Regions from separate parts of the Homo sapiens genome. Here region 2 is linked to region 1. A link means that fine-mapping ties the variant in region 1 to the expression of a gene that starts in the linked region. Tissue or cell type: nasal epithelium. Region 1 holds a variant in brackets; the other region holds the start of a gene. All regions are shown on one strand. Distances are from middle to middle.

Region 1 (11,732 bases):
TTGTACTTCCAGGAGGCAAAAGAGCCCTGAGGGAACCTCCTTCCATTTCCTGCTGTGAGGACAGCGGACCCCTGTCGCTGCCCAACTCCTTTGTCCTTTCCCCACAGGGACTACCTTTCCTCGAGTGACAGCCCCGCTCTCCTCAGGAACTCACCCCTGGTAACCCCTTCTCTCTTCTCGCCACCTATGGCCGCTCTCCTGTGAGCACTCCCGGGGCCTCCAGCTCCTTCTCTCTTGGCTTCATCCCAGACACATTTCTTCAGAGTTATCCTAATATGCTGTTTCCATTTTGTTTCCCACTGACTCTTCAGCCGTGATGCTGTGGTCTGAATGTGTTCCTCAATATCACATCTTACAAACCTTTTTTTTTTTTTTTTTTTTTTTTTTGAGGCCGGGTCTCACTCTATCGCCCAGGCTGGAGTGCAGTGGTGCGATCTCGACTCACTGCAGCCTCGACCTCCTGGTCTCAGGTGATCCTCCCACCTCAGCCTCCCAAATAGCTGGGACTACAGGTGTGTGCTACCATACTTGGCTAATTTTTGATTTTTGGCGGAGACAGGGTTTCCCCATGTTGCCTGCTCTGGTCTCAAATTCCTGAGATCAAGGGATCCACTGCTTTGGCCTCCCAAAGTGCTGGGATTACAGGCATGAGCCGCTGCCTCGGCCCAACATGTTGCAAACTTAATCCCTCACGAAACAGTGTTGGGAGATGGGGACTTTTGGGAATTTAGGCCGATTAATGCTGTTTTAAAGGGAACTTGTGGGAGTGGGTTCAGGCTCTTTCACTGTCCTGCTGTGTGAAGACACAATGTTCATCCTCTCCTACCCTCTGCCTTCTGCCATGTGAGGACACTGTAATAATTGGCACCTTGATCGGGGGCTTTGAAGCCTTCAGAACTGTGAGATGATATATTTCTGTCCTGTATGGGTTACCCAGGCTGTCATCTGGGTAATCCATCAAAGACTGTGACACTTTGTTACCGCAGCACAAGTGGGCTGAGACATATGGCGTGATTTCTCTTCCCACCCCTCTACTGACTGTCATCGCCAAACTCAGTGAGCATTTTTTAGTCCTTATCTTTCTAAAAGGACATCTTGATAGAGCGGGGACTGGAGCTCAGACAGTGCTGGTGATTAGGGTTGGGGTGTCTCCCCAGTTGATTTACAGTTGAGGCTTGGACACTGTTTTAAACTTGGGAGGAGTCTCCTAACCATCTAAACACAACCCTGATTCACCTGGTGGGCCAGAGCAGTCTGCCTGGAAGAAAAATACTGAGAAGCCAGCACTCTCATGACTATTGAGGTGCAGGGATATAAAATCTTGTACAAATTGCGATGGCTCTGGGCCAAGATCAATTTGTTAGAAACAGCCAGGCTTCCTGAGAGAATGTTCCATTAAGGGGAAAAGGAGTTTGGCTGGGCTTGACCAGGCAGTTCTCTCCCTTGGGGTCTCTCGTGAGGTTACTGTCAGATGGTGGTACAGCCACAGAAGTGGCTCCATACCACATGGCTGGCTGTGCCAAGCACTTAGCGGTCTCCCCCAACACCGTGATGTCGGGTTGGAGGGACTACTGGTTTGAGATAGAAAGTGGGACGAATGCTAAAACTCCATTTTAACCCTGCCACCACAGCACCAAAAAGCACATCTTTCAGCATGCTTTGTGGAAGAAGGATTGCATGTTTATGGCAATTAAAGATTGCAACACTTTTGATTCCCATAAAACTGTGTCTGGTTACACCTCTGACTGAACACAAGGGGGGGCTATCCTCTGAAATAGCAGAAACCTAACTTTCTGTGTGCAATGACAGCCAGAGCTTATTCCTCAGGTACCACCTGCCATAAATATACAAGTCCCTTTACCTAACAAAGACACAGTGATATTGGGGGTTCAGGCCACCACTAGTGGAGGGGGAGGAGACTAACCTTTGGCTCAACCTTCAGTGGAAGCAGATGTGCTTGAAGCTATTTGGGCAACAGAGTTCAAGGATTTGACCTGTGTCAACATGGGAGAGGGAAAGATTATAGCGGGACACTTTTGGCAAGCTCTGGAAGGAGACGAATTATGGAACATGCGCAAATAGAGACCGATGCACAGAAAAGCTAATAACATTCAGGCTCAGGGCTCCTTCCTTGCATGAGTCCCATGGCAGATTGTATTTTCCAAGATGGCAGCCACAAGACTCCAGCCACATGTACTCTTCTTACAGGATGAGGCCAATAGTCCTCCCATGGAAAGGTGGGGTCTATATGTCCTTCCCTAGAATCTGGGGAGACTTGTGACTCTCATGCAGATGATGCTGGAGTATTTCCAGGCTAGACTGTAAAGGAGAAATAACTTCTGCCTGATTCTGTTGGAAGCCAGTTGCAGGCTTCTAGGAAGCCCAGACACATGGAGAAGTTCTGAGTGTTTTGGCCGATAGTCACAGATGAGATTCCAGCAACAGCTGGGATCACCCATGAGATGTGCGTGAGGAAGGCTTTGAGATGGTTTCAGCCCTAGCCACCACTGACCTAAGAGACCACAAGAAAGAGAATCACCTGGCCAAACCCAGCAGACCTTCAGAATTCAGAAATAAAATAATTCGTCTTATTTTAAGCCACTGTGTTTTGGTTTGATTCATCCCATAGCAAAAGACAACTTCAACAGGCCCTTTCTGAGGCTCTGGAGGGGCCCTGGCAATGTATCCATTTGGTCATTTGCTTTTGTCAAAAGCAGACATTTTAGCTGTAATTGGCTAAAATTCTGATCTCTTTCTGCCCTCATGTTGGGTGGTGGTGGAGTGGATGTGGGCATTTTGAGGATCCAGCAAAAGAAGAATTGAGTTGAGTCATTGAGTTTGGGTTCCATGGGATTTATTTATGTGGTATGGAGTCATTTCTGTGTATGTTATTGCTAGCTGTCCCTGTGTAAAACAGATTTCAGAATAGTCTTCACCTCCCTTGTGCTGACTTACCTAGAGGTGTAATGTAAATATGCAAGACCATAGATTACATCACGATTGTGTCACAAGACATGTGCGTTTGCAGGAACATGGATGGAGCTGGAGGCCATTATTCTTAGCAAACTAACACAGGAACAGAAAACCAAATATCGCATGTTCTCACTTATAAGTAGGAGCTAAATGATGAGAACACATGGACACGTCGAGGGGAACAACACACACTGGGGCCTATCAGAGGTTGGAGGATGGGAAGAGAGAGAGCGTCAGGAAAAATAACTAATGAGTACTAGGTTTAATACCTGGGTGATGAAATAATCTGCACAACAAACCCCCATGACACATGTTTACCTATGTAACAACCCTGCACTTTTATCCCTGAACTTAAAATAAAAGTTGAATAAGAAAAATAGAAATGTACAAAGCTAGAAAAGAGTGTAGCTCATCCCATCTGGGAATTAAACCAAATCTTACAGCTCATACATAAAAATAGTTTGATAAAGATTTTCCTAAGTGTGCCAAGAATCCTGAAAACTAATCTTCCATTATCGATCATGAGCTATGAAGCCAGAAGAAAAATTTAAATCTATCAATAATAAAATACTAGAGCCAAAATAGTTTATTATTCTCTTCTCTCATAGAATATGATATTACAACATTATTGAAGAGGCAATCAAAGCATACACAGGCAAAAATGTTGGTAAAGGAGTATTACAGCAATAGGTCAGGAATTTGTTTAATTAAAATTGCTATTTTACTGAGTTTTATATATATTTAGTGGTAGCAGTAGCCAGAGTAGACTTTGCTGGAGTCTGGGCCATTGAGATTGGTATTATTAAGGTTATGTTGGCCTCATTTGCTCTTACCTTCTGGCATACACAGGATACATCTCACTTGATTTCTCACAAGTCTTTGGTACCCATGACCACTCCCACCTTTTTACAATTTTCACTTTTGCTGGCTTCTCTGGACTCACGCTGTCAATTTTCCCCTCTGGCTAACTGTTCTCAGTCATCTCTACAGAATTCTCTCCTTCTGGGTCTTTATGTTGTTGAGGACTTTATCCTAGGGCTTCTTTTTCTCTCTCTGAGCAAGCTTGTCCACCCCCATTGCTTCAATCCCACCTATCTGCTGACAACTGCTGATTCCACATCTCCAGCTCAGACCTCTTTCCTAGGCTCTACACCAGGAATTGGCAAACTTTTTCTGTAAAGCGATGATAACAAATATTTTATCAGCTTGCTGCTCATTGTACTGTCTCTGTCACATCTGCTCAACTCTGCTAAGGTAGTGCAAATATAGCCACAGAAAATGGTAAAAGAATGGGTGTGGCCATGTTCCAATAAACTTGATTTATAAAAATAAGCCTGCTTCATGGGCTATAATTTGCCAACTCCTGTTCTAAACCAGAATATTCAACTCCCTTCTGGAAATTTCCACTTGGGTTTTCTCAAGTTCCTAAACATAACATTGTCCCCAGGCAATTTCATCTTATTCCCTCCTATGTGTTCCTTCTTAATGAATGATCCACTATCCACCAGATGTCCAAGACAGAAATTCAGGCAGCATACTTGATTTCATTCCCCACATTCAGTCAGTCACAAAATCATGTCAATTCTACTTTCTCAACATCCCCCTAATCCATTCTTTTTTCTCTTTCTCCACTGCCTTCTTTCACCCCCTCTCATCTCTCACCTCCTATGACCTCCTCACTACACTGCAATCAGAGAGATCAAGCCACCCTTGGATTTTAAAAGCCTTCAGTAACAGTAGTCCCTGCCTTTCTTTGGCTGAAGTCTAAACTTCTTGAAACAGAGTGAGAAGCCTGCACAATTGGACCATTTCCCCATGTTAGCCAAATTCCTCTCATCTGCCTGCTCCTCCCGCCTCTGGGACCCTGCACATATATTTCTTCTGCTTAAAGAATGTGTAGCAGGTGAAGCAACTATCTGAGGCCAGTATCCCATGGGCAGTAAGAAGAATTTACCAAGACAGTTGTAGATAAAGAAAGGCAGATTTATTAAAGAAAGCATGAAAATATGTTGCAAGGCAGCAAGGGGCAGGCCAGCAAGAGAGGAGCTGAATGCCAAGAGACAAAGGCTTGCTGGGGGTTTTATAGGATGTTGCTTGTGCTGCGTGCTGAAGAGGGCTTAGTGCAGTACTGATAACACCAAGGTTGCAGTGGGATAACCTGCATTTTTCTATCAGCTGAGGGCCTGGTGATAGCTGGGCACAGGAAGATTGTGAGTTATTTGTGCAGGAGGGCTATGGTCCTGGACCATGAAGAAAGGCAAACTTATAGCTTATCTGCTTTCTCTTTCTTTTTTCCTCAGTGTCACCAGCCTGATTCCTTTTGCCTAATTAGGACTTCACAGAATTATTCTCCTTTCTCATCCTTCCAGCTGTCTTCTAAGTCTCAACTTGGATGTCACTTCCTCTGGGAAATGTCTCCTCACCTCTCAAGACTGTCTCTCTGTGCACCACTACAGCAAATGGGACCTGGGCCACTTCACTTTTACAATTCCAGTTTACAGACCTGCATTGCCCCAACCCCGTTAGACCAAAGACTCCCTGAGGGCAAAGATGGCCTCTTATTTACTCTTGATTCCCTAGCACCCAGCACAGCACTAAGCATTGTACCCACTGAAAGAACATCTGAAGGATGAGCGTTTATAGCAAAAGTGGTTTCCACTGACGTTCCCTTCTCTCTTCCCCAACTTTGGATTGAGGAGCCCAGGAGCTGGTCAGGTGGCAAGATAAGATGAGAACGGAGAAGTCATTACTTGGGGCCTCTGTTTTGCTGGTGTTTTGCTGGTGTGTGGAGATGGTGGGTTTCCCTTGAATACCTGGGAGGCAGGAGCAGGCATGAACTACTCCAGCCTCTGGGTTCTGGATCCACATGGGGTGCTGCTGCTCTCTGGCACCCATCAGTCCTTAACCATCTGGTCTCCAGCCAGGGAAGGAGCGTGGTGGTGGAGAAGCCTCTCTGTCCCACCCACTCATCCCAGGAGCTCACGAGAATCAGCCAAAGTCCGAGTTCTGCACCCTGAGTTAGGAACTCTATAACTTTAGACTTTCCCTGAGCTTTGGGAGTTCTCTTAACTAGTGTGAAAGCAGTTACATCATCCTGGGTCCTCCTAAAATAGACACATGTATCCAAATATAGGCACATGTATTGCAAACATAACATGTATGTATATATGTAAATATATACATATAATTTTTGTTTTGAATTAAGTATAAACACAACAAGTTACAAATATAGTACTGAGAGGTCCTTGTATGGCCCCGCCTCCCTCAGGCAGTATCTTACATAACTATAGTTCATGATTACAACTGGAAAGTTGCCATTGGCACCACAT[CAGAAACT/C]AGTCTGCAGACCTTGCTCAGATTTCACCAGGTTTTTTGTGCACTCATTTGCTTTCCTGAAAATATTTTAATGTTTTTCTACATGACTTATCTCCCCGACATACTGTGAGATAAGGTTTTTTTTTCTCCGAATAAGCTTAGAGAACAATGAATGTGAGAGGTGGGAAGGATGATTTGGTGCATCTCTGTTTTATCCATGGTGAGTCTGGACCTCAGAGCAGAAGGACCCTCGTCTCTCCTCTGGGGAGTCCTGGTGCCAACTCAGTGCAGGCTGCTAAGTTATCCGGGTCTGACTGTCTTCTTCTCTGCTAAAATTTGTCTTAAGCATGTAACACAGCCATGCTTATTAATGATGAGGAGACAGCCAATGAAAATTAATTTTTTCAAAGATGAATAGATATCTAGATTTTTTCAAGCACAACTCATTTAAGAAAATATCACCTCACTGAGCCCCAAATGAGTTAGGTCTCACTTAGAAAGTGTCCCCTAGTGCCAGGTAAAGTGCCTCATATTTGCAATCCCAGCACTTCTGGAGACGGAGATAGGAGGATCTCATGAGCCCAGGAGTTCAAGACCAGCCTGGGTAACATGGCAAAACCCTGTCTCTACAGAAAATACAAAAAAAAAAAAAATAGCTGGGCGTGGTGGCGTGCACCTGTGGTCCCAGCTACTCTGGAGTCTGAGGTGGGAGAATCGCTTGAATCCAGGAGGTTAAGGCTACAGTGAGCTGTGTTTGCACCACCGCACTCCAGCCTGGGTGACAGAGCCAGCCTCTGTTTCCAAAAAAAAAAAAGAAAGAAAGGAAAAGAAAATGCCCCCGAGTTGATTACATTTTAACCACTGTGCTAACTTGAGAGATAGTCTGCTATCTCTTTACAGGACATGAGGGCTGATAATCACCTCATTGCATGGTCCTGGGGACTGATGAACAAAGGCTAACATGTGGAAAAGGGCAACTAAAGAAAGAAGAGCCACCTCCAGGTTAATTAGTACAAGTCTCCTCGCTGGTATGCCCTAATACACTAAAACAGCAGTAAAAACAATCTGCACATTGGCATCGAAGGCACAGATAAACTTGCCGAGGACCCTTACCACGGCAGAGGGATGCTTTATATGAGTCCTTAGTAGATTAATTAAGTTCTTGCTAGTTCCATTTGGAAATGATGCTGTCCTCTTGGGGCTATGCAGAGAAGTTCATGTTGATGAAATGAGCTGTCCTAGAATGGCAGTTCCCGGGCAGCAGAGCCTGGGCTCAAGGAAGGTTGAAAGAAGGGGTGGCGTGGAGCTGCCAGGTGCAAATGTCAGGCCAGCAATGCAGTCCAGCTTGCATGGACGTGCTTCGCCTAGGAAGTTGTGACTTGGCTGCATTTTCCACTTCAGGTGAGATGGAAGGTTGAACTCTACCTCACCTCCTGGTGAGGTTGATGTTTCCTGGTGTTTATAACTTTCTTTGTAAATACTTGAAAGGAATTTACCATTTTAATGCTGGAAGAGACGTCTATTCCTTCTTAAGAGGACCTGAGTGGATCTTGATTGCAGGCCTTATGCTGGGCAGAGCTAAGGAGAATTCAATTTGTCTCCAATCTTATTTGAATGTTCTTTTTTTTTTTTTTTTTTTTTTTTTTTTTGAGACAGAGTCTTGCTCTCTCACCCAGGCTGGAGTGCAATGGCACGATCTCGGCTCACTGCAACCTCTGCCTGCTGGGTTCAAGCAATTCTCCCACCTCAGCCTCCCCAGTATCTGGGACGACAGGAGCATGCCACCATGCCCTGCTAATTTTTGGTATTTTTAGTAGAGATGGGGTTTCACCATGCTGGCCAGGCTGGTCTCAAACTCCTGACCTCGTGATCCACCTGCCTTGGCCTCCCAAAGTACTGGGATTACAGGCATGAGCCACCGCGCCCAGCCTATTTGAACGTTCCTATGCCTGCTACAAGTGCAGCAGCAGAATCTCCACACATCTTGCGTGCGAAAGTTTCCTGTAGTTCCTTTAGCATAGAGAGGCTGGGGAAGGTTAGAGACTGACTTGTACTCTTTAGACATATAGTTGATCATTGAACAACACACGTCTGAACTGTTACACACAGATTTTTTTCAATAAATGTGTTAGAAAATGTTTTGGAGTTTTGCAACAATTTGAAAAAACTCAAAGACAAACCATCCAGCTAGAAATATCAACAAAAATAGAAAAAGTTAAGTATGTCATGAATGCATAAAATATATGTAGATACCTAGTCTATTTTATTCTTTACTACCATAAAATATAACAAAACTATTGCAAAAGTTAAAATTTAGTAAAAATTGTGTACACACTCACAGATCGTATATGGTGCTATTCTCAGTTGAGAGAAGTGTATACAAACATCAAGATGCAGTATTAAATTGTAACTGCATAAATTTAACCGTAGTGCATACCACACTATGGTAATAATTTCATATCCTCCTCCTGTTGCTGTTGCAATGAGCAAAGGTGTTGCGAGTATCCACTTAAAACGTTCTGTGATACTCAACATTCCATCATGAGCAGTTCATCCCCAGTGAATTGCGCATCACAGTAAAAAGTGCTCTCTCCCTGTTCGCATGTATTTTTCGTCCTGTTTCGTGCTGTACTGTAAACCTTGAATAACACCATGGGATCCAATATGAAGTGGCACTAGTGATGCTGGAAGTGCTCCCAAGAAGCAGAGAAAAGTCATGACATTTGACATTACAAGAAAAACTGGATTTGCTTGATATGTAACAGAGACTGAGGTCTGTAGCTGGGGTTGCTTCCATTTCAGACAGATGATTCATCTTGTAAACAGGTGGTGTAAACTTACTGTATGGAAAAATACATAACAGTACCACAGATGTATTTTCTCCTTACGAACATTTCCTTTTCTCTAGCTTACTTTATTGTAAGAATACAGTATATCATACATATAACATACAAAATACATGTTATTAACTGTTGCTGGTCAACAGCAGGCTGTTAGTAGTTAAGTTTTTGAGAGTCAGAGTTATACCTGGATTTTCTACTGTGTATGGTCAGTGTGCCAACCCCTGAAATTGATCAAGGGTCAACTGTAATCCTAAAAGAATCTAATACAATATTGTAAACAGTAAGTGGTCAATAAATAAGGAATTGAACTAATAAGAATACATAAATCCCAGAATATGTGCAACCTGATCATAGTACACAGAGATCTCTCTATATATCTCTTTTCTTAGTTCATGCTGTTCTTTCAGGTAGAAAGCGCCTTATTTTGAATTAGTTGTCTTTAGAGCAAAAATCCCTCCAAGAGTGCTGTGTGGTTTCCTATGCACAACCTGGAATAGTCCATTGCTTCATGCCTACCCTGGACATGAAGGGCCATGCCGCAGCGGAAGTCTCTATGCACCCACCCCCGTCTATACCTGAGCAACACATTCCTCTTTGCTGCTCTCTTACAGGCTACAGAGTGCGGTGGCGCCAGCACAGAGCTCTGCTCAACGTCCCTCTGTGCTTTCACGATGCTGATGGATTATGAAGGTAGGGAAGAATGTACAGCCAGGAGGCCATTAGGAGGGCAACTAATTTATAAAATCACATTTGTAGAATTTAATGCATCCAACAACTACCAGGGGAAAGGTGGGCAAAAGCTATACCAACACCACCCAAGTCAAAACCAAAACAACAGGAAAAGAAAATTATGTGGATGTAGAATTTCTGATAACATCATTCCCAAGGTGCCTTATCCAAGAGGAACTGCTACAATAATATTTTAAGTGGAAATAAATACATGCTGGAAGCATTATATATTAGTAGAGTATTTTTTTTTCCCAGAGTACTTTCTCAAGCACATCAACATGAGCCCCCTAAGAGACATTTCACATTAAAAATAAAATGTCTGCCCACTGCTGGTTTCTCAATCTGCCTCCACCTTCTGTCCCCTTTAATGAACTGGGCCATGAGGTGAGTCAGAGAGGATAAAGGGAGTGGTAAGAATTTGAGGAGAGAAGAGAGTGAGGCTAAAATAGGAAATCAGGAAAAGCGATTCGGTCCCCCTGTCCCTCACATGGGGCCACCCTCTTGTTGCCCAGTGTGGCTTCTTCTTGAGGGTTCTGCATGGTTCCTCAATCCCAGGGAATTCCGCAGGACATTCCACCCAAGACCATTGGGCTCCCACCTCTACTCTTTTGCCAGTTAATGAATAGGCAGGAATTTCACTGCCTGGAAAGAGGAACAATGCTTTCTGGTCCTTATTTCACATCTAAAATAGAGAGGTCAATTGATTTATTCCTAAATATCTTTGAACACTAAAATAGAAGTTTTACAGCATATATACTACCTGGTTGCTCTAGACTTAAGCCAGGGAAAAGTACAGATTCAACATTTAAAATTGAGATAGACGCTTTCCACTTAATGCTACCAGTCTTGCTTTATTTCATGAGAATGAGAATATAATAATATGGCATACGTTCATTTGGGGGAAAGATTGATGTCTTATAACATAATTTATAATTACAGAAAACATGTGAGTTCACTGGGAATAAATAAATTTTGAAGATAATAAGATACTTTCACTTATGTCGTAATTTCTATGTCATTTGGTGTAGGATGTAGAGATATTAACGTTTACACCTAACTTAAGTTTGTCATCTAAGACCTGAAGGGGTTTTGTCTATCAGCTGCACCCCTGGGTAGAGACACAACCTTGGGGAAGGCCTCAGCCCCATCCCTCGTACAGCAGGAATGAGAACAGCCCTGCCTGTTGGGAAGCTTGAGGGAGGCTATGGACGTGCAGCGCTTGGCAGAGGGTCTCGTCATGGAAGGTTCCAGCAAATGTGAGATACTTTTATGATTTCATTTTCTCCAAAAGAAAGGGAATAAGAGAAGAGGGGAGGAAATAAGACTAATTGCGAGAGATAAAGTACAAGGGTGAGGGAAGGAATAAGGAGACATGACGGCAGCGTGGAGCAGCCGAGGGGGGAGATTGCTTTCACCACTTCCCAGCATCTATTGCAGATTCCACCCTCAAACATGTTGTAAGGACTCTTTATTCAAGGTAATGTTTGAACCCTGCTGAGCCAGTGGCATGGGTCTCTGAGAGAATCATTAACTTAATTTGACTATCTGGTTTGTGGATGCGTTTACTCTCATGTAAGTCAACAACATCCTGGGATTGGGACCCACTTTCTGGGCACTGCTGGCCAGTCCCAAAATGGAACATAAGGAAGTGGTTCTTCTACTTCTTTTATTTCTGAAATCAGGTAAGACATAGTTTTTTTAAATTATAAGAATTATTTTTTCTCCCACAATGTAGTAAAAATACATATGCCATGGCTTTATGTGCAATTCATTTAATTTTTGATTCATGAAACTTCCAGTTGAAAATCTTGTATAAGATTGAGGAATTCTTCAAGAAATAAGTTTAAGTTTCCTGTGAAGATTGTCAGGGTG
Region 2 (11,732 bases), 32 kb before region 1:
TTCATCTCTTTCTCCAGAGAACTTAGGAGCAATCAACCAACTTCATTATGTTCCTTGGTTCTCCACATATAGTCAAAGGTATTATGTATAGAGTCACTAAACTCCTTGCCTCTCATAAGTGATGAATCAGTAGTGTCAAATGCATTTATTTTGCATAACTCTCTAAACAATTCAGGCCAAGTACTATCAGTGTTCTCCATACTATTAGAAGTAGAGTCCTTAGCATTTTTTGGTCTAATCATATTAATCAGCCAACACCAGAAGTCCCAAAACCAATGAAAGAATTCCATCCTTAATATTCTGTTCCTCAAGAACCACTTCTGGTATGAAAATCTGTATTAGTCGGGGTTCTCTAGAGGGACAGAACTAATAGGAGATTATATATATATATATATGAGAGAGAGAGAGAGAGAGTATATGTATATATGTGTATATATAGTGAGTATACCTATATCTATCTATAGATATAGATATACTCACACAAAGGGGAGCTTATTAAGTGGTATTAACTCACAAGATTACAAGGTCCCATAATAGGCCACCTGCAATCTGAGGAGCAAGGAAGACAGTCCAAGTCCCACAGCTGAAGAACTTGGAGTCCGATGTTCAAGAGCAGGAAGGATCCAGCACAGGAGAAAGATGTAGGCTGGGAGGCTAAGCCAGTCTAGCCTTTTTACATTTTTCTGCCAGCTTTATATTCTGGCTCTACAGCTTGGGGGCAGCAGGGGCAGGGGCCTCAGGGTGCTTGCAGGGATGACACACTGGCCTCTTTTCCATAGGGTGGCTGGGGCACACTGGGGTGTGAGTAAAGCACTCAGGATCTTTTTTCCTTCCCTAGTCCAAGTACAGCAAGGGCAGTATGACTGCAGTGTTAGTGGCAGAAGGACTTTCAGTCACCTCTGGGAGCTTCACCCCACAAAAACACAGAGTGCAGCCAGTGGAAATGTTCAACTGAGTTCGAGGTGCCTGCACTGTGGGCCCAAGCCAGGAGCCTTGCCTGGTGAAGAGTAGCAGGTGAAAGCTCACAAGAAAGAGAAACTGGAATTCTTTCCCTGCTGTGTGCTGGAGGTGTCAGGGAAGTGGCCAGGTCCCTTCTTTCTCAAGCCCAAGGGCATTAACGGTGGTACTGCTGCAGCTGAAATGGCAGAGGGGCTGTGGGTTGTCTCTTGGATTTCCTCCCCAGAGAAGCACAGAGCCAACACTGACTAAAATGTTCAGGCAGGGCCAGGGTGGCTGTGCTCTGCCCAGTGAGGAATAGTAGGGGCAGGGACCAGTGCAGAAAACAGTGTGGCCACTTTTCCATAAGGCAGCTACACTGTGCTGGAGGTCCGTGAGAGTCCTGAAGCTCCTCGCTCCCTCCTGAGCCCATACTTTAATCTCAAGAGTTTGAGATAAACAGTGGTAAGGAAGAAAGTACAACGGGTACGGCTAATGAAACCCAGGAAGATAAGTCAATGCGTAGAAGTAATTCCAACCTAAAGAAATACTTTTTAAAAATCATATTTATAGAGGTTTGCAGTGATACTAAAGACAATATTGCAAATCATTATTAAGAATACAAGAAGTACAATGTTTCTTGTTTCTTTAACACCTGTGATACAGGTGTTTGATATGAATTCTACGTAATGGCTGCATTGCTTCTTGCCACCACCCAAAGAAGGTTGTATAGCACTCAGATGTATACTAACTGCAACCGTGTATCTCTTAGGAATTTCTCCTTTGCCCTCTTCCCTCCCTATCAGCATGTATCTAGCAGCATTCTGAAAAGTTAACTGCACAGTGAGCGACTGCTGGGCATCTTAAGGGGCATTCTTTTCTACCTAGGTATTCCCCCTCCTCCACTCATGTCTAGCATGCAGGACTTGGGTAATCTCTGGGGTTTCAGATTCTCCAGACCTCCATTCTCTCAGGGGCTTCCACCTCCTGCTCATATCTAGCTATCTGCCTAGTCTAACCATAAAATCTTAAATAAGAATAAATCATGTTTGCTCTTGATTGCCATGTCATGATAAAAAAAATAAGACACCATCAGTGGCAACTGTGTTGCCAAGATTGATGTTGATCTGCTAATCCCTGTGTAGAAATGAACCTTGGAGGCCATTGTTTGATTTCTTACAATATGTGCATTGGTTGTAACACTGTCACTTTGACAGTTGATAAGCATCTTCTGAATGGTCCCTCCTTTAGTTACAAAAATGTTGGTGCATGGATGATGTTGGGAATAAATAAAAAGTGAACTAAATTATGTTCTCATCTTGGGCAAAAATTAAGCAAAAAAAAAATGGAGGATATGAAGCTCCTCCACAAAGAAGGCCATTTTTGTACTAGGCTTACTACAGTGACACACCACTATTAGTTGGGGAGAATTCAGTTTTTCCAAGGTGTTGATAGGCATCCAGATTTCAGAGGAAATTGTAAAAAAGCAGAACCTGGGACCAATACTGCCCACGATTTTTCTTTGAGATCAAATCTGAGGCAACAAATCTGTTCAAAAGCTGCTTTCTGCCTGGTTGTGGCAAAGGGTGGCCAAGTGGGGCTCAGCTGTGTTCCCATTGCAAGGCTACTGAGCATCCCCTGTCCTGAGGCTCCTTAGGACACCTGGCTGAGCTTCAGCAGCCCTCTTCCAAGCCTGGAGATGCCAGCTCCATCTCTGGCACAAAATGTAGTGATTTTCACAGGGTGAGAGGCCAAAAGAGGCTAATAAAATGAAGATAGCCAAGCTTCCATGGAATTAAGCAACAGGACAACCTTGACCACTTTGAGGGGTGTGGTGGGGGCCACATGCAGATGGAGTGGGTTAAAGAGTGACTAGAAGAGCAGTGGGGGTGGCAGCAGGAGAGAAGCCTGGCTCTGAAAGCAGCGAGACTTCTAGGGAATACAGGGTCAGGGGAGGTTCTGAAAGATGACACACTGCAGAGAACATGTGTTTGTATGCCGATGACAAGTATCCAGTAGAAAGGCAGATGAACAGATTCTCATTCTCAGAAAGGCCTGTCCTGACCTCCTGAGAGTACACAGACCATGAGGGCAGGGCAAGGAGGAGGATGCACGCTCACTGTTTCATGCAAAGTCCTTGGCCACAGTCCACCTGCTCCCCACCTCTGTGACTTTGTCCTTCCTCAATTTAATATGCTCTATGCTGGAAAACTGGATTATTGAACAGGCATTGGCTGATGCATTCTGAACCTAATCCACTAAAAAGCACTTGATAGATATATCAAAATATCATTGAGAAATAGATATTTTAGGCCCATATCCATGTCTTCACCCCGCACTGTTTCTCATTTGAACTCTCTTTTCCAGGAAGAGTTGTGCTTGGGTAAATTCTATAGCTCACAGTGTGACTTCAAAACACACAATAAATTAATAAGGTGCTTCCTACAGTGAGTTCAGTTAAACATTTTGAAGAGTGTTTTTGAAATGTAGCAGAGCAGGCTACAATTGATATTCAAAAAGAGGAAACTTCCATTTATTTCCCCCTTTAACTAAGTTACCTGTAACTGTGTCATTTTATTATGCTTCATAGAGCATCACTGCTGAGATCCCCTCCCCAGCTCATGTTGCTAGGAAATATCCCAAAACAGAATCAATTTTTCTTTTTTTAACCTGATGATTTTTCCACAATCCTTTTGTTTCTCTGATTCACCTCCAGGGCTCATATGGCAATGGGGATTTAATAGGGTTTATTTGTTGGTGAAGAAACATTAAACAAATCTTTTAATAGGAAAAATACTTTTATATTATAGGCAAAATGTAGATGTATATTGCTACTGAAGTAAATGTATTTTATTAATGGTGTGAGAATTTCTTCCTCACTGTGGTGTGTGAATGTGTATGCATATTTGCATGTGTAAAAGACTTAGCAATTTGTGAATAGAAGATGTTTCTCCGCTTCTCACTGAGCATGGCTGTAAAAGAAACTTTTTCCTCTCCCCGGGCATTCCAGCACACATTGGAAAGATAACACGTCCACAGAAAGCCTGGCTTTCCAAAAGAGCTTATCAGAGAATGTGCCCCCCAGGTCGATTAAAACATATGTTAATCCTGTGGCAGAGAAGTTTGTTCTAGCCTTTGGGTGTAGCCTGCTGAATAAGTTCACAGTGATCTACATCCTAGTTTCCATGGGCTGAAATAGAATATTCATATCCCCTGCACTCCCTACACACACAGACATAGACACCAATTTCCCCAAAAAACTCTTTGCTTAATCTTCTCCTGCTCTGTATTTTCTTTGATATTTTCTTGAATGGCTTCCACTAAATTCAAATGTGTTTGACTTTAAAGTCAACTTGTAAAATTTTATCTGGTAATTTATAGATTAAATTGCAAGCATCTACCTCCCTTTCATCAGACTCTCCCTGCAGGGCAAGTTCATCTAACTATGTATGTGCTTCAAGATGGAACTCCTGAGTTCACAGGTGATTTATAAACCAAAGCATGCCCACTACAAAACTCTCACCCTCCAGAGATTTGCCTCAAGGGACAACACCCTGCTCACAAAGGCACCAGCAGGCAACTGCTCAACTACCTGGTGGATAAGGTGCCCAAGCTAGCATGGACCCCTGAATCCTTGCTCGCCTCCTCTGTTGCCTTTTAAAAGTGCCACTTTCTGCTCCTAAAGTGAAGTAGTACGGCAGGACTGCTGCATTTCTTCCCCTAAGCTAGCTTTGGAAGCAAATCACTTTCTTTATACCAGACTTCTCTCTTCTTAATTGGATTCTGCAAGTGGCAAACAATTAACCTGCTCTTCAGTTACATTGGAATGTGTTTAGATTTATTTTTTCAAATGTTGGAACAAAGATGAAAAAGTGAGAAGAGCCCTAGATTTTTTCTTGGAAATCTGGCTTAAATCCAGGTTTCTTTATTTCCTTGATTTGGGAATTTGGTCACGAGACAAATAACATGATTTTCCTAAGTCTAGATTTCTTTGTTTATAAAATGGGGATGACTATGCTACCCTACCTATACCATGAGCTAAATAAGCTAGTATTTGTAAAGGACACACACTTACATTCACAATCACACACGGTGTGTATGTGTGTATGTATGTATAAAAATGTGGGGACCTAACCCACTCAACAAATACCCTGAGTATTTGTTGAATCATTATATGCGTATATCATCTGGCAAATGGATGTGTATAATTTCTCCAGGGATAAGAAGCAAATGTATACCGATGGAAAGCCTTACTCAGGCCATAACAAAGAGAGAAATGCTGAGTCCCACTCCATGAACAGGTCAAGGAACCAAACATATTCAAAGAGTTATTTCATTGTTTCAACTTGCTAGTGAGGGGAGCATGGCACCTGAACAGAGATGATATAAATTAATGAAACTGAGAACCAAGCGAAGAGCTTAGCCATCCTTTGCATAGTTAGCTACAATGGCTATTTATTTTTCAGCCAGACTGGCCATCATGTAGGCACACTCTTTTAGATTAGAAAAATCAACCATTATTTTTTCTGCCCATTCATTCCAGCACCGTGACAGTCTTCACGGGGAAATTAAACTTATTTTTTTAAGAATTTTTCAATCATATACAAGATTTTGAACTGGGAATTTCATGAATCAAAAATTAAATGAATTGCACATAAAGCCATGGCATATGTATTTTTACTACATTGTGGGAGAAAAAATAATTCTTATAATTTAAAAAAACTATGTCTTACCTGATTTCAGAAATAAAAGAAGTAGAAGAACCACTTCCTTATGTTCCATTTTGGGACTGGCCAGCAGTGCCCAGAAAGTGTGTCCCAATCCCAGGACATTGTTGACTTACATGAGAGTAAACGCACCCACAAACCAGATAGTCAAATTAAGTTAATGATTCTCTCAGAGACCCATGCCACTGGCTCAGCAGGGTTCAAACATTACCTTGAATATAGAGTCTTATAAAATATTTGAGAGTGCAATGTCAATAGATGCTGGGAAGTGGTGAAAGCCATTTCCCCCCTCAGCTGCTCCACATTGCCTTTATGTCTCCTTACTCCTTCCCTCACCCCTAGACCTTCATCTTTCCTGATTAGTCTTGTTTCCTCCCCTCTTCTTTCATTCTCTTTCTTTTGGATAAAATAAAATCATAAAAGTAGCTCATATTTGCTGGTAACTTCCATGACCAGACCCTCTGCCAAGTGCTGCACATCCATAGCCTCCCTCAAGCTTTCCAACAGGCAGTGCTGTACGAGGAGGGGGCTGAGGCCTTCCCGAGGTTGTGTCGCTACCCAGGGGTGCAGCTGATAGACACAACCCTTTCAGGTCTTAGTTTACGAGCAAGCTAGGTATAAATGTTAACATCTCCACATCCTATACCAAACTGTGCCGAAATGACAACATAAGTGAAAATCTTTTATTATCTTCAAAATTTATTTATTCCTAGTGAACTCACATGTTTTCTGTAATTATAAATTATGTTATAAGATATCAATCCTTCCAGGAGGGGGTGGTGGCTCATGCCTATAATCCCAGCATTTTGGGAGGCCACGGCAGATGGATCACCTGAGGCCAGGAGTTTGAGACAAGCCTGGGCAACATGCCAAAACCCTGTCTCTACAAAAAATACAAAAATTAGCTGGGTGTGGAGGCACATGCCAGTCATCCCAGCTACTAAGTAGGCTGAGGCACTAGAATTGCTTGAACACAGGAGATGGAGGTTGCAGTGAGCCAAGAATGTGCCACTGCACTCCAGCCTGGGTGACAGAGCAAGAATGTCTCAGGAAAGAAAAAAAAATAATAAATACCAAATAAAATTAATAAAATATCAATCCTTCCTATTCTAGTAGTTGTGGCTTAAATAAATAAATAAATATTTTTAAAAATAAAACATAGGGTCGAGTGCGGTGGCTCAACTCTGTAATCCCAGCACTTTGGGAGGCCAAGACAGGTGGATCACAAGGTCAGGAGTTTGAGACCAGCCAGGCCAATGTGGTGAAACCCCATCTCTACTAAAAATACAAAAATTAGCCAGGCGTGGTGGTGGGCACCTGTAATCCCAGCTACTAGGGAGGCTGGAGTATTCACTTGAACCCAGGAGGTGGAAGTTGCAGTGAGCCAAAATCACGTCAGTGCACTTCAACCGGGGTGAGAGTCTCAATAAAATAAAATAAAATAAAATAAAATAAAATAAAATAAAATAAAAGCATAGTATCAATCTTTCCGCAAATGAATTCATGGTGCAATCTTACATTTTCGTTCTCATGAAGTAAAGCAAGAGTGGTAGAATTAAGTGGAAAGAGTCTATCTCTAGTGTAGTCACGTCAGTGGTTGTGTCAAGATGGTTAGGAGGCTCCTCCCGTTTAAAACAGTATCCAAGCCCCAGTTGTAAATCAATTGGGGAGACACGCCAACTCTGATCATCAGCAATATCTGAGCTCCAGTCTCAGATATTGTGTGCAGTTAGTCTCTGTCCTGTACCCTCTACCTCCTTCCCTACCAGAAAAATCACCACTTTAGTCCCTGGCCACCGGGACACCCCAGGAGGGTGAGTGGTCTGAGGTAGTTATGGCACTTATGGCTCCCTTGCTGCTGATCTGGAACTCAAGCCCCAAGAAGTCCCCTTGGATGATCTGAATATACATTTGGGACAGATCTAGGGAGTTTCTGAGCAACACTTAGACTGGGGTCTTCCATTGATTAAATCCTACTTGAATTCGCTACTTTGGGACTCAAGTCTAAGGGACTGAGACTGAGACAGGAGAGCACAAGACTAACTTTGGTCTCTTGATCTTTTCTTACCTTGCAACTGTCAATGCCTCCAGCCAAATGCCCAGCACAGAGCTCAGTGGATTTGACTCTTCCATTCAGAAACTCATAGCGATTGCACACTTCATTCTCAATCACAGGGAGCTGGGCTTCCTTGAGAAAGCCAGCCCCAAAGGTACCTGTGTTTAAAAAGATGAAAGAAATGGTAACTACGTCCACAACATGTTCACAAGGAAACTCCAGAAGAACAGAGCAGTGGTGATGGACCTCCTGTCTGTCCGTGAGGCTGTAGAACACAAGGCAGCTCCCAATGCTGCCAGACTCTCTGAACCCTGGAGAGTGTAAACGTCATATAAGAGTCTATGTTCCAAAAACCTGGATTTAACAATCTGAGCTTTGTCATGGTGCTTTGCGGTTGGTTGTTGTTTCTTTACCTTTTTCTTTGCTTTTAAAACCATAAAGAATAATGTTTAAATGTAGAGTCTGAGAAATGCAATTGCTATTGTTTTTATATTTTCAGACTTTTTGTATGCTTCTTTCACTAATTACATCATATCACAAAATTTCACACCCTGATTTTTTCACTCAACATTACATAATGAGTTTTGTATAGTGCTATGATCTTCATAACTAATATTTTAAAGGAGAGCTACTGATTAATGAGCATGAGGTTTCCTTTGGGGATGAGGAAAATATTCTGGAAATATGATGATGGTTGCACACCACTGTGAATGTACTAAATGCCACTTGGTGGTACCCTGCAAAAATGGTTAAAATAGTAACTCTTACGCTGTGTACATTTTATTGCAATAAAAAAGAATAGTCATCATTTACTAAGCATTATCCTTTCCAGGCACAAGCTTATAATGTGGTGTATCTCACTTCATCCTCACAACAGTCCTATGAAACAGGCAGTTCCATCACTCCTGCTCTACAGTTAAGGAAACTGAGGTGTAAGGAGGTTGTCTAGTTCAACCTGAGCCTGGGTCTGCGGAGTCACTGCCCAAATGCTTCCTCCCCGTGCGCGTTGGCCCCCCTCTTGCTTCCAACCCTCCACATCTTTGTTCATAAAGTTCATTCTTATTCCTTAATATTTTCTGAGCCTAAGTTCCCATAAATTATATAGACATATTTCTGTCTCCCAATAACACTGCCAATTTATTTTCTAGAAGGTTATGACAGTGTAAAATGTCACTAGAAAACAATCACTTCACCACACTTGTATGAGTGTTCAATTTTTAAATATTAGCTAATCTAACAGGTTGAAATTGTCCTGATTCATTTTCTAATTTATACTTCTTTGACAATTTGGGAGAGTGAAGATTCTCCTGGTTGTGTTTATTCTTTTGTGAAAAACTGCTTTATTTTCTTTGCCAAATTCAAATAGAACGGTTGCAAAATTGCCAGAGGAAATGCTGTTTTTCCAGATGGACACACCCAGGGATGTTTCAGTGTTCTCACAAATAATCCAGTTTTCTAATTTTGCAAGCCCAGCTTTCATTAGAATTTTGCAAAAATCCTTGCTTTGCGAGCATGGCACAGGCAAGAGATGAGGCACTCTCTCTTTCTTCCCCCAGAGCCTTTGACTGCACTTAGATCATTGACTTTGGTTCAGAAACCTGACTGCATCTGGAGTTGACATGAGCAGCATGGAAGATGTTTGTCCCAGCACCTCACTCCAGAGGCCAGCTCAGCTCAATCTGGGCAGAGCTGCATGATGGAAGTTTCTGACTACCAAGCATCGGGCAGAGGGTGCATCACCTGGACTACATAGTTGTGTGAGGGAGCACCGTTCTCTAGAATCTGCTATTTGAGCAAGGCAAACATCCTGATAATGGTGAAAACCTACCGCAAGTTGCCAGGAAAGTTGATGTGGTCTGCGAGTAGGTGCTGCCATCCAGTGGCCGACATAGAGATGTCATCTCTGAGGGCAGGTAGGCCACAGGTGACAAGAGGATTGAAGCCCTCCCTGATGGGGCCTTGGGGAGAGGGCAGCAGGGTAAGTCCAGCGGCAGGATCAGTCCATTGATTGTGGATGACGACTGACCTGGAAAATCCCCTTGGCCTCAACACCTCCAAACTCTGCATTTGATCCAAGTCAGGGAACACCTGGAAACATGAAGGGGAGAGCAGGAAAACTTTGACCTCCCTCTCAGAGGCTGAGAACGCCAATTGACCTGATGTCATTATTGACATGTAGAAAATTGATGAACAGGCCTGAGTTATGTTTTGTGGCACCTCATGGTCTAGTTAGTGTTCTGAGAATCATTTTCTCAGTGGACCTGCAGGTGAGACCAGGCGAGGCAGAAGCCTAGTGGGGGATGGTGGTTAGAAATGTGTGGATGGTTGTGGGGCAGAAGAAACAGCAAGTAGGCTCTGGGCCAGCTACAAACTGGTTATATGATGTCTACTGATGATGATAGTGATGGTGGTGGTGGTGGTGATGGTGGTGGTGGTAATAATTGTGATGGTGGTGGAATGATGATGATGGTGGTGGTGGGTAGTAATGATGGTGTTGGTGATGGTGGTAGTGGTCGTGGTGATGGTGATAGTGATAGTGATGGTGGTGGTAATGATAATGCTAATGGTGGTGGTAATGATAATGATTATCATGATGATAGCGGTGGTGATGGTGATGGTGATGATAATGGTGATGGTGGTAGAATGATGATGATGGTGATGGTGGTGGTGGTGGTAGTAATGATGATGGTGGTGGTGATGATGTTGAGGGTGATGATAATAGTGACAGTGGTGGTGGTAATGATAATGGTGATGGTGGAATGATGGTGATGGTGGTGGAATGATGATGGTGGTGCTGAGTAGTAATGATGGTGATGGTGGTGGTGGCTGTGGTGATGATGGTGGTGGTAGTGGTAGTAACGATGATGGTGGTGGTGATGATAGTGATGATGGTGATGATGTTGAGGGTGATGATAATAGTGATAGCGGTGGTGGTAATGATAATGGTGATGGTGGCGGTGGTGATGATGTTGATGAAGATGATAATGGGAGTGGTGGTGGCAATGTGGATGGTGATGATGATGTTGACGATGATGATGCTCATCACAATCACCTTATATGTTAGTACAGGTAAGAAAGCCAAGGCTAAAAGAGATTAAATAACTGCCCAATGTCACATGGAAGATGGTAGAGCCAGAATTCACACCCAGATCCTTATGATTTTAGCTTGGTGCTTTCATCAGTTGAGGTATTGGAGAGGATCTGTTTGCTTTCTGGCTGCCCAGCAGTCTATCACCCTACATCCCATAATCCTGTTGAGGGATCCACCCTTTGCCCTTCTGGGTATGAGTGGGGTCCTGCCTCCACCTCTAGCATGTAATAGCTGATGCAGGTTGGAGCCAATCAGTGATGGGTTCAGGGACAGGCCTGTGACCCAAGTTCAACCTCTCAGACCTGGCCAACTATTGTTCACTTAATGGGGACAGTGGCCTTCCTCAGTCTTTCCTGGCAAAGCAAGAGCTGCCACAGCATCTGCCACCACAAGAATCTCACCTTTGTGCCCAAGGATGATGCCTACTGCATGGCTGGACAGGGCCTGGGCCCTGGGGCCATCATGTGAGCCTAAAGACTTTTCAGCTCAACAAGAATTCCCCTTTTTTGCTTAATCCATCTTAAGTTGGATTTTCTGTCACTTGCAAGAAAGAGTCATGTTAGATACAACTCTATTCTGTATATTAGTAGGAGCTGCCATGATGGAGTGCGTAGCACGTGCTCGACACTTGATGCACATTCTTATTGTTTCTCCCCCGACAACCCTGCAGCCCCCATTTCATATAAGAAAACAATCAATGAGAGTTCATGACTTTTCTAAGTCCCGACAGCCAGTAAGTGGGAACCAGGGTTCCAATTCAGGTCTCCCTGTGCCATCCTGCACCTTCTCTGAGCCTCAGGTTCCTCACTTGTAAAATAGGAACAATAATATCTAAGTCTTAGAGGTTTGCAGCATTTAAATTTTTATAAGTGCAAAACACTGGGAGCAGCCTGGCACACCCAAAGGTGTTCCTCTTTTGCCA

The links.
Region 2: it holds the start of LPA, and the variant in region 1 is fine-mapped to the expression of LPA in nasal epithelium (TOPMed, PIP above 0.99).

Annotation. Positions count from the first base shown.
Region 1 is chr6:160,690,812-160,702,543 of GRCh38, forward strand. It overlaps PLG (plasminogen), which reads left to right and starts at 11,433. Exons shown (of 19, transcript NM_000301.5): 1 at 11,433-11,542. The coding sequence starts at 11,494. The variant CAGAAACT/C (reference allele first, on the strand shown) is at 6,303.
Region 2 is chr6:160,658,497-160,670,228 of GRCh38, forward strand. LPA (lipoprotein(a)) reads right to left here and starts at 5,779. Exons shown (of 39, transcript NM_005577.4): 1 at 5,670-5,779. The coding sequence starts at 5,718.